2 separate regions of the Homo sapiens genome follow, and region 2 is linked to region 1. The links come from fine-mapping of genetic effects on gene expression. Tissue or cell type: spleen. Region 1 holds a variant in brackets; the other region holds the start of a gene. All regions are shown on one strand. Distances are from middle to middle.

Region 1 (2,752 bases):
ATTGTATTTTCCACATATTGGGGGATGGAGGGGGGAGGAAAAGGCAGCAGAGGGGTGGTAGTAGGGGGGACCTGGAGCTTGTCATCTGAAATTAATTGAATTTAGCCATGCCAAGAAAACACTGGTAATAAACCCTCCCCATCTAAATTAAGGGTTTTATACCATGAAAAAAAATAAAAATTTACGGCAGTAATTTCATCTGGGTTTTTCAAAAAGTGCTTGCTGATTTTCTTGTACTCAGTAGAAAAATCCCCAAGGAGCAATGCAGACTGCAATAAGGCAGACTTCTAAAAAGATACCATTTAATTTCTCACTCCTCCCTTTGCACTATTACACACTTCCACTTTTCTCTAACTCAGTATTAACTCTCTCAACACAATTCTCTTCCATTAACTCTGAGCAACATCTTACAGGGCAGGTGAGAGTGCCTGATCTGCAAATGCCTATCCATTGCTCTTAGCAAGATAAGGACAAGTCAAGAAAACCAGAAGCCCCGGAAGCGCATGCATGAATTCTTTATGATACCTGGCCATCTTAATTGAAGGCATCAAAAGTCTTAAAGGCTTAAAAATAACCCCAAAACAAATCCATCACTCAATGTCTTTAATGCCAGTGACAAGAACAGATGAGTGAATTCAGTTCCCAACTTGTGGGTCATAGGCGACATGGCAGGTACAGAGGCCAAGCACAGATATATCTGCAAAGGTTCTGCAGATCTCCATGGGTACAAAGCACTGGCTGAAGACCAAATGTTTAATGTATACAATATAGAGTATTCATTTTCTAATGAATTTTCTATCTAATGTCCATAGATATTGCTGTGATGAATAAAACAGAAATTTATTAAAACGAGAACAAAATTCACAGTTGCTTTTTGTTCACTTTCTCAATGGATGCTGTAAGTTAAAAAGTTAACTTACAGTTCTAAAAATTTTTTTAGGCCAAAATGAGCCTTCACATTGAAGAAGACAGAGAACACCTGACGCGAGTGTTAGTGCAGGTTGAGTATCCCTGATCCAAGCATCCAAGATCCTCCAGAATCTGACTTTTTTGAGTGCCAACATGATGAGCAAAGAAAATGCTCATTGGAGCATTTCAGATTTCAGGTTTTCGGATTAGGAATGCTCAACCAGTAGGTATAATACAAATATTCCAAAATCAAAAAAAGTTCAAAATCCTTAACACTTCTGGTCCCAAGCATTTCAGATAAGGGACACTCAACCTGTATCTTCAGT[G/A]CTTTCCACTTGGGCACATAGTAAACACTCAATACTTGTTGATCATAGATGTGAGTACATTTTTCTTGGCCCCTTTTTGCATCTAGTTTTTCTTTCACTGCAGTCCCTGCCAATTTACATCACCAATCCCATCCCTTGGTGTATAAGAGAGCAACAGTTCTCAAAATGTAGTCTGGGGACTCCTGGGAGTCCCTGAGACCCTTCTGGGAGGTCTGTGAGATCAAAACTTCTGAATTCAGAGAAGTTATTTACCTCCCATGTCTGTGCACTTGAGCTTTCCACAGGCTCCATCACCTGTTCTGTCACAACAGATTGAATGAGAAATGGAGAATCCAGCAGTCTTCTCTTTATTATGCCAGACATTAAGATTTGCAAGGCTACTCTCTCCATTAAATTAATTTTTAAATAGTTATTTTTCATCAAAAATGATATCTATATTGACATGTAATGGGTTTACTGTTGTATTTTTAAGACAACAAATAAATATTGACATATCCTGCATAAACAAAAGCTCTTTGGGGTCCTCAACAATTTTTAAGAGAATAAAGGGCTCCTGGGAACAAAAGTTTGAGAACTACTGGTATAGAGATAGCAATCTGCAATATCCTGGTGTCAATGAGAAGCTGGTTTCTATTGTCAAGAACTCTGCTAATCCCTAGAGATGCTGATGCTGGACACCTGCCAGATGGGGATGTTGTAAAGGGGATTCAAATGTTGGCTTGGGTGGCTGGGCCAGCTGCTCACCATGGTCTGTTCTAACAGAAGATTCTATAATTCTGTCTGAGAGGGAACCTAAAGAAGTCTTTCAGAGCTTTGGCTACTGACATGGAATATGAATAACACTTAATTTACCTTCATTTTGCTACCCACGAAACAATATGAGTACATTTTTTTTCCATGGTGTATTCTCTTCATTTTGGTATAATATTTCCAACATTTTGGAAGCAAGGTGATTTTTAAATTTTGCTTGTTGAGTTTTTATTAAAAGAAAAGCTTTCTCTTCCATGTCCAGCCTCCTACCATGTTCAAATCACAAAGACCAGTACCATTTGCTCTGAAGGGAAAGAATGCTAAGGGAAGAGGACTCTGAGAATGTCCTATAGACCAAGGTCAATAACGAGGCAAACATTCTGCTGACAGAAATCCCCAAGGCAAATACACAAATACCAAACCTGCAGAGATGAGCAGGATATCTTCATCTTCTGCGCAGGTCTTACTCTTGCGTAACACAGAAATAGGATGGCTTATCATTAATGAGCACACTGTGCCCACAGAAATGAATAAGTTGTTTAGAATATATGGCATCAGATTCATGAAGGGAAAGAGCTATTAGGAAAATAAAATGACCATACTTGTGCAATTTGATTCAATTCAATGAACGTTAACTGAGTGCCTGTTACATTCCAGCCATTATTCTAGGTGATCATGAAGAGAGGATAAATAAGCTTTACTGTCCAAGAACTCACACTCTGAAAGGGAAAACAGGTAAATCACTGTAACGCAATGTGATAAGTGAT
Region 2 (2,591 bases), 810 kb after region 1:
GAGCAGCTGCCAGTCTGGCGTCGCTTCAGTCCTAAGATGCGCCACCCCTAGAACCCTCCCCGGCCTCCTCCGCCCTGCTAGGCCCCACCCTTGAGGAGCCTCTGCTCAGATTTACCTCTGAGTCCTCCCCTGAACCCTGCCTTCAGCCTTTCTGGGCAGCCGCGCGGCGGCGGCGCGCCCAGTCCTTGTGTCCGAAGACTCGGAGTAAAGCGGGTTCAGCCAGAGAGCGGCCCTGCGTCCGCCCTCCTCTCGAACCCGGGTCTGCGCACGTCGAGCCCCCTCTCTGCGTTGAGGGTGGCCCCGACCAGCACGCCTCGGGCCCAATCCACCCACCCTCCGGGACAAACGCGCCTTCCCCCAGGCTCCTACGGCCGCGCCCTCGCTCCTGCGCATCCTTAGACCCGGCGCCCCTGCCGTCCCAGCTCCCAGTTCGCAAACGTGCGCCCGGGTTCCCCCTCTGGAAGCGGCCAGGTGTGGCGTTTAGCTCTTTGCCACGGGTGCGGGTGCGACCAACCCCCAAGCAGGCTCAAACGCGCCCTTTCCCGGGTCAGGCCGGGCGGGGCCGGTTACGCGCGCGCCCCCTGCCGTAGTCGTCCTCGCCCCCAAATTTGGATGTGTCCCCAGGCATCTGCCTCCTCACCGGGCCAGCATGCCCTCTCGCCCCCAAGTAGGACTCAGCCCGGCTTCTCGCAGTCCTCTCGCTAGGGCGAGGGTCTTTTCCTCCGAGGTCCCCCAACCCTCTGGTCCCCGCGCAGGAACGCCCACCCCCGTTGTGCCCGCGTCTGCGTTCCCGACGTTTCCCTGAACAGGAAACACCTGACCAGGGCCTGAATAGGCCCCCTCGCCCTCGGCCCGTACACCCCGCGGCCCGCTACCCCATCCCGCCGCGCCCAGGCCGACGCCGCTCGCCCCTGACCCGGATCAGCGAGTCCAGCGCCGGGCGGTCCAGACACGTGAAGTTCTGCAACAGCTCCCACTTGTCGCGCTGGAAGCTGCGGCTGGAGTCCTGCGCCGCGCGGCCCTCCAGCGTCCAGAACACGCCGGTGCCCAGCGCCAGGTAAGCCAGGTAGGCGAGCAGCAGGAGCACGGTGCTGGGCACCGCGCAGCCCCGGACCCTGCCCTCGGGAGCCGCCCGGGCTCGCGGTCGGTACATAGCGGGAGAGGCGGGGAGCCGGCGCCGGGAGCGGTGGACTAGGACCCGGTGGGAGGGAAGGGCCAGGCGTCCAGCTCGTATCTCCTCTCGCAAACGCCTGCTGGTGCCCGGTTTCGCCGGGGAGGAGGAGTGTTGGGGAATGGGACAGCCTGGCCCCACCCAGCCCTGGGATCCAATCCCCGGGACAAAAAGAGGCTCTGAACTGTGGGCATCTGGCCCCGCCTCAAATGTGTGCGGGGTGCCCACCTGCTAGGCCTAGGCCAGGGAGAAGGAGGAAGCTGCTGGGTGACCGCAGGCGCTGAGGGAAGGGGCCCAGAGCCCCCTCACATTTCCTGAAATGAACAATGGGAGGGACTTCTGGAAACCGCACTCAGAGGTAGGAGATAGTAGAGACCAACTTTATTGTCTTGGGGCCCCTGCCTAAGTTCTTGGACTCGGGGGCTATCTCCAAGGACTTGCTGTCTGTCAATCTCAAGACCACCTTGGGTCTCCCACACCTCTGTCCTTTCCTTTGTACCCCAAAAGAGGGACCCCAGCTGATTGCCACTTGTCCATGAGCTTGGGAGGTAAGAGGAGCCTTAACCAAGAGGCTTGTCCACTCCTTGCTTCTGAGAAGGCCCCCGAAATCCCTCTACCTGGAGTGGAGGAAGCGTCTAGGCTGTGTGAAGAGTCCGTGGGTCCTCAGCTTCCCAGTCCTTTCTTGGATATGGGGAAGTCCTGGGGTGTGACTTGGACTCCTCTTGCTGCTGTAGAGCCTCTCCTGGGTCTCCTGCCTGGAGCCGCCTTGGCTCCACAGCCTTGCCTCAGACCTGTGCAGAGGAACCCAGCCACATAGGAGCCCACTTGCTGTTGGATGATGGGAGAGGCAAAGGCCAAAATTTCCAGGCCCCGGGATGGAGTGGTCTAAATCTCTCCTGGTCAGGGATGTTGCAGTCTGGCAGGGGAAAGGCCAGACCTGGAGAATGCATTCCTGAGAGAGGCCAGACGTTCATGGAGCTCACTTTCTGGAAGGATCCTGGGATCTGCTGGCTCTCTGGCTTCCCATGGGGTGTTTGGAAAGGCTCTTGAGAAGGCAGGAGCCCAGAGGGAGTGATGAAGTTAAGGGGGTGGCCTGTGAGGGTCAGGGGAGGCCATGTTCAGGAAAGTGGGTAGGACACCCAAGAGGTCCTAAGCTTTGTTCACAGACAGCCCTGGACTTCTAGGCAAGGGGAGCTGGCGAGCTTTGAGAGGCAGCTCGCCTGCCCCTCGGCTGAGAGCTTCCTGAGGGCAGAGATCCTCTTTTCACTAAGATTGTTCCAAAGTCTCTGCCCAGGTCTCCCCTCTCTTTGATGCTCCCTGCCAGCCATTCCCATGGGCTCTCATCAACCCTGGGGCTATTCCCATCATAGCATTTTGGGCACTGTGTTGGGGCTGCCTCTTTGCTTGCCTAGCAACTAAA

The links. PIP is the estimated chance that this variant, and not a neighbour inherited with it, causes the effect.
Region 2: KCNK17 starts here. The variant in region 1 is fine-mapped to the expression of KCNK17 in spleen (GTEx, PIP 0.93).

Annotation. Positions count from the first base shown.
Region 1 is chr6:38,500,207-38,502,958 of GRCh38, forward strand. The region is part of intron 6 of BTBD9 (BTB domain containing 9); the gene reads right to left. Among named protein-coding and RNA genes, the nearest start is that of BTBD9-AS1, 20 kb to the left of the region's middle. The variant G/A (reference allele first, on the strand shown) is at 1,236.
Region 2 is chr6:39,313,168-39,315,758 of GRCh38, forward strand. KCNK17 (potassium two pore domain channel subfamily K member 17) reads right to left here and starts at 1,252. Exons shown (of 5, transcript NM_031460.4): 1 at 917-1,252. The coding sequence starts at 1,153. It overlaps LOC105375047 (a long non-coding RNA gene), which reads left to right and starts at 789. Exons shown (of 3, transcript XR_926774.3): 1 at 789-1,057. It also overlaps a transcript of KCNK16 not described here.